Regions from separate parts of the Homo sapiens genome. Here all the other regions are reported to be linked to region 1. The links are microRNA targets in miRTarBase. Many come from high-throughput screens and were not tested one by one. Region 1 holds a microRNA gene; each other region holds the end of a gene's coding sequence.

Region 1 (3,252 bases):
CTCACTCTGTTGCCCAGGCTGGAGCGCAGTGGCGTGATCTGGGCTCACTGCAAGCTCCGCCTCCCGGGTTCACGCCATTCTCCTGCCTCAGCCTCCCGAGTAGCTGGGACTACAGACGCGCGCCACCCACGCCCGGCTAAGTTTTTTGTATTTTCAGTAGAGACGGGGTTTCACCGTGTTAGCCAGGATGGTCTTGATCTCCTGACCTCGTGATCTGCCCGCCTCGGCCTCCCAGAGTGCTGGGATTACAGGCGTGAGCCACTGCGCCTGGCCCGCTCTGAGAGTAAATGAAGGCAGAGCTATGCCCATCCAGCTCCGTTCACCATTCACCACCAGCAACCACATGAGAGACCCCAAGTCAGACCACACAGGCAATCCCTTTCTGAATTCCTGACCCTCTGAAACCTTGAAAGATGATGAAATGATTCTTGTTGCTTTAAGCCACTAAATTTTGGGGCAATTACTCTTCAATAGCAGAATTTGTACAGTGTGTTTGGGAACACAGAAGAGGGATCAATCAAAAGAAATTGAACATTCAGCTGGGCACAGTGGCTCACACCTGTAATCCCAACAGGGAGGCCAGGCAGGTGGATCACGTGAGGTCAGGAGATTGAGACCAGCCTGGCCAACATGGCGAAACCATGTCTCTACTAAAAATACAAAAATTAGCTGGGCGTGGGGTGGCGTGCACCTGTAATCCCAGCTACTCAGGAAGCTGAGGCTGGAGAATCGCTTGAACTCGAAAGACAGAGGTTGCAGTGAGCCGAGATCACGCCACTGCACACCAACCTAGGTGACACAGTGAGACTCCATCTCAAAAAAAAAAAAAAAAAGGTGTTGAACATTCAATGTAAAGAAAGAAATTACACTAATACATTGAGTAGGATACCCAATAAATTGAGTTGCTGTTGAAAATAATCCTTAGACGAAGGCTTTCACATATAGCAGCTCAAAGAAAGTCTCCATTCCATGTTATCTTAGGAAACCTCTCTGGAGCTCCACTCCTCCCACTTCCTGCTCTTCCTCCCCAGCCCCTGGGTCAGGTCCTGGACTCCCATAGTTTTCAGGCTGCTAAACAACAGAACGAGCACTGGACTTGGAGCCAGAAGTCTTGGGCTCAAGCCCTGCCCTTACTGCTTACTAGCTGAATAATTCTGGGCAAATCAGTTGGACCAGTTACACCTCAGCCTTCTCATTTAGGAAATGGAGATGTCACAACTGCTAATTCATTGAATGCTCTGTATGAACTGACCACTAAACCCTTTAAATTGACCACTTCACTTAATCTGCATAACCACCCAACAAGATAAGGAATATTATTACTATTATTATTATTATTATTATTATTATTTGAGACAGGGTCTTGCTTTGTCACCCAGCCTGGAGTACAGTGGCACGATCACTGCTCACTGCAGCCTAGACCTCCTGGGCTCAAGTGATCCTCCCACCTCAGCCTCCAAGTAGCTGGGACTACAGACGTGTGCCACCACACCCAGCTAATTTTTGTATTTTTTGTAGAGATGAGGTTTTGCCATGTTGCCCAGGCTGGTCTTGAACTCCTGGGCTCAAGTGATCCTCCCGACTTGGCCTCCCAAAGTGCTGGGATTACAGGCATGAGCCACTTGTGCTGGGCCAACAGGAAATATTATCTTCATTTTCCCAATGGGGAAACTGTCCCAGAGATGTTAAGTAACTTGCCCAGAGTTATGCATCGTCTGCACGGCAGAGCTGGGATTCAACACTAGGCTGCCTTGCTCCAGAGCTTGTGCTCTTAACACTGTGCTGTCCCCGCGGGGGTGGGTGAAACTCTCAGGACAGCTTGTGAGAGTGTAGAAAAGGGCTTCTGTAAATGAAAGGAGTGCATGTGCAGAGGGGAGGAAACTTTATTTATTTATTTGAGATAGAGTCTCACTCTGTCACCCAGGCTGGAGTGCAATGGCACGATCTCGGCTCACCGCAACCTCCACCTCCCGGGTTCAAGCGATTCTCCTGCCTCAGGCTCCTGAATAGCTGGGGTTACAGGCGTGCGCCACCACACCTGGCTAATTTTGTATTTTTAGTAGAGATGGGGTTTCTCCATGTTGGTCAAGCTGGTTCCGAACTCCCGACCTCAGGTGATCCACCTGCCTCAGCCTCCCAGAGTGCTGGGATTATAGGTGTGAGCCACTGCACCCGGCCGAAAACTTTTTCTTTTTTTTGAGATATGTTCTCACTCTGGTTGTTGCCCAGGCTGGAGTGCAGTGGCGCAACCACAGCTCACTGCAGCCTCGACCTCCCGGGCTCAAGTGATCCTCCCACCTCCCACCTCAGCCTCCCAAGTAGCTGGGACTACAGGCTTGAGCCACCATACCCTGCTTTTTTTTTTTTTTTTTTTTTTTTTTTTGTAGAGACTGTGTTTGGCACATGTTTATGGTTACTTGCAACTCCCTGATAGCATCTGGCCTGTTCTGCCTTATAGCAGACATAGTTGCTCCTATTTCTGGGTCTTCCTGTTAAAGCTCCTTAAGGGCAAGCCCCACGTCTTATTCCTCTCTGCACCCTCACAGCATCCCATCCAGTGCCAAGGACTGAGTTGGGATTCAGAAAAAAAAAATATTTGAATGGAGTGGATTCCTCTATTAAGCCGAAACACTAAGACAATTATACCTGCTCATAAAAACATAATGAGAACAAGAACCTTTAAGAACACATTCTAGGCCAGGCGCAGTGGCTCATACCCGTAATCCCAGCACTTTGGGAGGCTGAGGCAGGTGGATCACCTGAGGTCAGGAGTTCGAGACCAGCCTGGCCAACATGGTGAAACCCCATCTCTACTAAAAATACAAAATATTAGCTGGGGCTGGTGGCGGATGCCTGTAATCCCAGCTACTCAGGAGGCTGAGGCTGGGGAATCACTTGAACCTGGAAGGCGGAGGTTGCAGTGAGCTGAGGTTGCGCCACTGCACTCCAGCCTACGCAACAAGAGCGAAACTCTGTCTCAAAAAATAAAAAAAAGAACACCTCTAAAAATTCTCAGCATTCCTGAAACGTTTCTAATGCCAGCTTTCTATTCTGGGTTTTAAACCCAAACCAACATGTTCTTTCTTCAGAGTTTGCAGATGTGGTCACAAAAGAAGGGGGAAAAGAGGAGAAGAGAATCTTTATAACTCATTCAGACACTCCCTGACACGTTCCTCAGGGTAAGAAGGAGGTTGTCTCTTCACCAGTGTTAGAATCTGGCTGGGGAGGAGGTGCAGATGGAGTTATTTGAAA
Region 2 (3,252 bases), not on the chromosome of region 1:
GCACTCTGCTGCGCTCAGCTGCCTGATGGCGCCTTCTGTTAGCTGCCGAAAGCGTTATTCCAAGGACAGGAAAGACCTGAAGAAGAGTGTGCCTACAACATGGGGATACAATGACAACAGCTGTATATTTAATATCAAATGTCATGGAGAGAAAGGCACCCGGATAGAAAATAAACTAGGCTCAGCAACAGCAAACCCTTACTTGGTGCTGGCTGCAACTGTTGCTGCCGGCTTAGATGGACTTCATAGCAGTAATGAGGTCTTGGCTGGTCCAGATGAGAGCACAGACTTTTACCAAGTGGAACCTTCTGAGATCCCTTTAAAACTAGAAGATGCCCTTGTGGCACTGGAAGAAGATCAATGCCTGAGACAGGCTCTAGGAGAAACCTTTATTCGATATTTTGTTGCCATGAAGAAATATGAGTTGGAGAATGAAGAAATAGCTGCAGAGAGAAATAAATTCTTAGAGTATTTTATTTAGAATAGAGCTCACAACTACTCCTTTAGACATGTAATTGTTACTTAAAGCTAATCTACCAAAACAAAAAGACTGAACTTTTGTAATTAACAACAGCAACAATAACAAGATTACGAATGCTTTTGACTTTTTTTTTTGTCCATGGAATATTTGACAGATGAAGTAGGACTGCTGAGAAGATTCTGATAACAGAAACAAACAACAAAGTTGTGGTGAAGCTATAATATGCAAACTTACCAGATCTTGTCAGTCATTTCCTATGTGTATGTTGACCTGGATAAGAATATCCAATTTTGGGTGGCAATAAATATATTCGCACATTAAGAAAAAAAAGACTTAAGCATTAGAAAGCAAAATTTAAATGACTAAAAAAGAAAAAAAAGAAAAGGAGAAAAAATTTTAATGGTACACATAGGTTATGATTTCCAGGGAGACAAATATACTAATATAGTCTCGCTAATCAAATAATATTGTGAATCCAGGTTGTATGCACCATTATGGTCTTTCTAAACAAGTTAAATAAACTTTTGCCAAAATATAATGACAGGTAGGCAGTTTTCCCCTAAGTCTCTTCTCTTTTCACCCTTCTCCACTAGCTCCTGAAAAGCTTATGAACTTCAAGGTTATAATGTCCTCAAGAAACAAATCCCTAAGGAATAGAATTGGAGCTGAGAACAACGAGGTCAGATTTTAAAAGTAGTTAAAGCCTTTCTTTTAACAATGCCTCATATAGAAGTTCAATACACAAAGTATAGATAGAAAGATGTTTGTGTGTGAGGGTAGGTGGGCTCTGTCTACTCTGCTTCATTCTTTGAAACTAGATGTTCCTCTGAAACCTCTAGTGCTCTGTGGAGTGTGAGAACAACTGCCTGGCTAGCCAGGGCTATGTTTGGAGTTTAAGTTTGTTATTCAAATTACTGAATCTGCTGCTCACAGAGGTTGGTACCTCCCCAGAGAATATTACCTGTTCCAGGCCTTTGTTTGAATGAGATAATATTGTAACTATCACAAAAGTTTAGCTGCTTTTGGGAAGAAGTCCAAAATCCACTTACTAGCAAATGAAACATTATTCTACTGCTTAGGATCAAACAGCAGATTTTATGTTCAATTAAAACTGACTGTAGTCTCAATTTAGATAGCAATTGCACAAGCAGAGGATTAGAATTTGGCTCAGATCCTCTTATTAAAATTCATATTACTCAGTAGCTTAAATAGTGAAAGTCAGTCTATCCTTCACTAATTACTCCCTTCTTTTTTCCTTTGAGCAGGAGAAGTGTGTTTGGATACATAAGAAGAAAGTTCCCAGCACTTTGGGAGGCCAAGGCAGGAGGATTGCTTGAGGCCAGGAGTTTGAGTCCAGCCTGGACCACATAGTGAGACCCCTGTTTCTACAAAAAAAAAAAAAAAAATGCCTCGCATGGTGGCACATGCCTGTAGTCCCAGCTACGTGGGAGGCTGAGAAGGGAGGATCGCTTGAGCCTGGGAGTTTCAGGCTGCAGTGAGCCATAATCACACCACTGCACTCCAGCTTGGGTGACAGAGTGAGACACTGTCTTAAAAAAAAGAGAAGAATAAAATTCATGGATGCATATGGGGTAGAGAGAAAGATAGTGTAGGGTAGCTGGGGGAAGGAAGGGAACCTGTCCTGAAACCTCCAGAATGAAATCCCACACATTACATCATGGGAGGGATAAGGAAGACTCTCATGCCAATTTTCTAGCTGTCTGCTAGAAAATTCCCCTCTGTTCATTTTCCCCTCTGTTCTCAGTAATAAAACCTCAATATGTTCTTTGAAAGCAATGAAAAATGAAATGATATTTCTGAGCCTTCATTAAGGTTGGATGTGGTCATGTTATTAGGTTCAGTGCAAAGAGGTGAAAGTAGAAGTGTTGCATATAAGTTCTTTAGGACATTTTCTTTTCTTTTCTTGTATTTTTTTTTTTTTTCCGAGATGGAGTCTCGCTTTGTCACCCAGGCTGAAGTGCAATGTGGGGGGGTCTTGGCTCACTGCAACCTCTGCCCCCTGGGTTCAAGTAATTCTCCTGCCTCAGCCTCCCAAGTAGCTGGGATCCCAGGTGCCTGCTACCATGCCTGGCCTTTTAGTAGAGATGGGGTTTCACCATATTGGCCAGTCTGGTCTTGAACTCCTGAACTCAGGTGATCAGCCTGCCTTGGCCTCCCAAAGTGCTAGGATTACAGGCATGAGCCACCATGCCCTACCACACTTTAGAACATTTTTTTAAATGACGGATGCTGTGTGCTCTGCCCTTTCTTTCTCTTGCTGCCTTCACCCTTCCTGCTGAGTGGCCTACAGATAATGTGGCTAGGATTATGTCCTTGGGAAGGGAGGTTTGCTCCACAGGGTACAGTAATAAGGTGGAATCTCTGCTTTGTAGAGCAGTTTGACTTGCCTACATCCAGATGTTTACCTGAGAGAGAACCAAACTTCTATCTTCTTTAAGCCACAATGATTTTGATTCTTTGTTAGTTGCAATGAAATTTATTTTCTCTTTTCCATGTGTGTGTTGTATGTGTGTTTGTGTGTGAGTGTGTGCATATGAGTGGGGAATTTGAGGGATTTGGGGATGAAAGAACAAAGGTATAAGAACCAGTGAAAGACGACTTCCTCAATATTCCCACTTCTAGAGAGGATAATCTGAGTTAATCAAAGGGATCCACACATCCAAAAAATGGGATTGGCTCTAACCCATCCCTATAAAGTGGCATATCCCTTTATAGTCCACGGGCCTTAATGAAACATGTCTAATGCATTG
Region 3 (3,252 bases), not on the chromosome of region 1:
AAGTTTCTGGATGGAGAACTTCCTCTGGATTCCTTCATTGATGTCTATCAGAGCAAACGGAAACTGGCCCACATGCGACGGGTGAAAATCGAGAAGCTCCAGGAGATGGTCCTAAAGGGGCAGAGACTCCCACAGGCCCTGGCCCCGCTGCCCCCCAGGCTGCCCGAACTGGCACCTACCGCCCCCCTTCCCTACCCTGCCCCAGAGGCCAGTGGGCCTCCTGCCGTTGCACCTCGGCGCATCCCCCCCCCACCACCCCCGGTGCCTGCGGGACGCTTAGCCACCCCGTTTACTGCGGCCATGAGTTCGGGACAGGCCGTGCCGTACCCAGGATTACAGTGCCCGCCCCTGCCCCCCCGCGTGGGCCTCCCCACTCAGCAAGGATTCTCTTCGCAGTTCGTGTCCCCATATCCGCCACCTCTCCCTCAGAGACCCCCGCCCCGGCTCCCTCCACACCAGCCGGGTTTCATCCTCCAGTGAGCGCCGGCGCGGTCCTTCCCGGGAGACTTCTTCCACCTGGCGTGTTGTGCTCTGCTCACGGGAAGGAGGCTGGAGGTCCGCTCTGTGCCAAGGGCTCTGGGGCCCTGGGCCAGCGTGTCTGTCTGATTTTAGAACTGTAGGTCAGTGGTGAGTAGTAGGAGCCCAGGCTTTGGGCATCAAGGCAGTTGTGTGTGCCGGGTTACAGCCTGACACCTGTGCGTTGCATCGGTTTGCATTATCCGTGTGATTTCTAAGTATCTTAGCGTTGATGAACTCATGTTTGGGAAGAAATAGGCCTCTCCCCCAGTCCCATTTAGAATCGTGGTCCTTCTGTTGCAGCTTTATTTAATGAGCATGGTTCATGATACTTATTTTATTTTCGAAAGACAGTCCTATGTGTCTCACCCACCGGCCACTGCAGCCCTGGTGAGGGCGGGTGGGCGCCGGCCGGCCTGGAAGAGCGCCGTGGCTGGGCCACCACCTGTGGCTGCGTTGTTGCTCACTGAATCTGTTGGGGAGAGGTCACCATAGTCACCGCCTGACCTGGCTGCTGCTCTTGCTTCAGAGCCACAAGCAAAGTTTGCACTGGGCCCACTGCCGAGTCCAGAGGCCGGAGAACGGCCACTGGTGTGGGAGGGGAGCGCACGAGTGGGACTTTGCACAGCAAATTGTGTCCCCAGCTCCTCCTCTCCCGCCTGCCTGGAGCCGGCCCTGAAGGTTTCTATGAAGAAATAATCCCCCAATATTTTTACTACGTGTGTGATTTTCCTGTTTTATATTGAAAAAACTTTTTTGACACTCCCAAGACCATTCAGGGAAATTTTATAAAAAATGCAGATACTGTCTTGAGCAGATCGAAATGCCGATGAAGTGGATGCAATTTCCTTTTGTGCAAGCAGTGCACGGTGCCCCCCCCTCGGGTGTCCGTGCTGTGCCTTAGCTTCCCCAGGTGCCGGGACTCACACCTGCTAGGGGCTGGGCAAGGCCCCGGCTCTGCTTTCTCTGAAGGGCTTGTCCAAGTTCATTGCCCTGTTACAGGTGGTCAAGACGTCCGGCCGCCTTGACCCAGGCTACCCTTAGCCAATATCCTCTGCCCCTGGGTGGCTGGTGGCTGGGCCTCAGGGTGGGCAACGTTAGGGGTTTGGCGAAAGCCCGCCCCATGGGATTGAGGGACGGGGCTGCACTCCAACCGTCTGCACCTGCTCTTCCCCCACCCCTGTGGGACCTCATCTTCACGTGCCATGTGTGCTGAAGGCCCAGGGCCCAGCAGGGGGCAGTGGCACCTGTTGACGGAAAAGGCCGAGGTGCTTACCAGTGGACCTTCTGGCCCGCCCCTCCCCTGTCACTTGTCGGGCATCCAGGGCCCCGACCTGTGCCTAGCCGCCAGGGTGACAGAAGGCAGAACTGAAGCGGGGTCTGGGCCACGGGCCAGGCCACTGCCTTTTGTCCTCAGTGACCGTACATTCCTGCTCTCGGACTTGAACTCTACTGTAACTGTTTTCTTAAAGGAAATGAAGCTGTACAGGACGATTCACTGCCATGCCAGTCAGGCGGGCTTGCCATGTTCTGTGAATCTCGAGTGAGCGGTGCCACCCGCCCCCATACCTCCGCCACCGGCCGCTGTCGGGGATGCCACAGCCTGCCACGGTCGCAGCCAGACGTGAGCTTGGCATTGAAGTTGCAAAGCGGCCCCTGGCCGGGCTCGCCGTCGCTGTCCAGGGCCGTGTCCGGTGCTGTGGCTGTAAAGCTGTAGGACCCTTTTTAATAAATAGAGAATTATTAATAACAGGCCTGTCACTTATTTACTTGGGGATGTGGATGTTCATGATGTCTGGTTCTGAAACATCAGTGATCAAAGTTCCAGCAGGGAAGCTGGCTGGGACGTCTGTTTTTGAAGCTGAAGACAAAATCTCTGCCTGTCCAGGGCCCCTGGCACAGGTGGGGCCTCTTACCCTCTTGGTCACCAGTCTCATAAACAGCAGTCACGTACAGGGCATGTTCTGTGTCTTAAGAGGGTGTCTTCAGGATCACAGCCACTGTGTCCAAGTAGGGGACTGAGGGTGACCTCAGGGCTCAGACTGTGCCTGCTCTCTGTCCGTGAGGTTGCCGCCGTGTGCTGTGTGAATGGTGGTACTTGTTAGGATTTTCTGTGTTGGTTTTTAGTGGGAAAACCAGTGGCTCTGATGTTTTGCTTTGGGGACTTGCCAGCAGGTGTTTCAAGAAGGCAGTTGCCTCTGCCCATTTCAAAGCCCAGTGGGTGCTGTTTCCTTCTCTAGGCCGAGAGGAGGGGACCCTGCAAACCCTGCCTCCTTGCAGAGCTACAGAACTGCCCTGTGCCCGCCGCCCCGGCTGAGCCGTGCGCCTGCAGCTATGTATGTCCGCCGCCCCAGCTGAGCCGTGCGCCTGCAGCTAGGTATGCCCGTCGCCCCGGCTGAGCCGTGTGCCTGCGTCCTCACCACCCCAGCTAAGCTGTGTATCTGGGTCACAATGCCCCTGCAAGGGACTTGAGGAACTGAGATGAGAGCAAGCTCACCTGTTGCTGTCTCCTGTAATAGCTGCCATTCCTGGCACATCATTGTTCTATGAGAATGTACAGGAGAAATTTCTGTGGTTTTTCTGTGAGGAAGAGGGAAGGATTTCCTGAGAAGCCAGTTAGCCTTAAAGAAAAAGTGTGTGATAGTTTCTTTCTTCCCAGTGGCTGCCAGGAAGCTTATAGCCAAATCTGTTGTCCACTCCAGTGAGGATGCTGGACTTCACAGAGTCTTGTGGCTC

Evidence for each region. Region 1 holds the annotated microRNA hsa-miR-378f (ACUGGACUUGGAGCCAGAAG, at 1,090-1,109, shown strand). A microRNA usually pairs through its seed, bases 2 to 8, with sites in the 3' UTR of a target mRNA and lowers its output. Matches are read on the target gene's strand: a 7mer-m8 pairs with bases 2 to 8, a 7mer-A1 pairs with bases 2 to 7 and ends in A, and an 8mer does both.
Region 2: miRTarBase lists LGSN as a target of hsa-miR-378f. Seed matches in the 3' UTR shown: 7mer-m8 at 1,832-1,838.
Region 3: miRTarBase lists VPS37B as a target of hsa-miR-378f. Seed matches in the 3' UTR shown: 8mer at 1,081-1,088.

The regions. Positions count from the first base shown.
Region 1 is chr1:23,928,032-23,931,283 of GRCh38, forward strand. It overlaps MIR378F (microRNA 378f), which reads left to right and starts at 1,039; the gene lies at 1,039-1,116.
Region 2 is chr6:63,277,250-63,280,501 of GRCh38, reverse strand. LGSN (lengsin, lens protein with glutamine synthetase domain) reads left to right here. Exons shown (of 4, transcript NM_016571.3): 4 at 1-3,252. The coding sequence ends at 481. Among named protein-coding and RNA genes, the nearest start is that of LGSN, 41 kb to the left of the region's middle.
Region 3 is chr12:122,864,344-122,867,595 of GRCh38, reverse strand. It overlaps VPS37B (VPS37B subunit of ESCRT-I), which reads left to right. Exons shown (of 4, transcript NM_024667.3): 4 at 1-2,266. The coding sequence ends at 480. LOC124903039 (a long non-coding RNA gene) reads right to left here. Exons shown (of 2, transcript XR_007063500.1): 1 at 3,014-3,252; 2 at 2,239-2,596. Among named protein-coding and RNA genes, the nearest start is that of VPS37B, 30 kb to the left of the region's middle.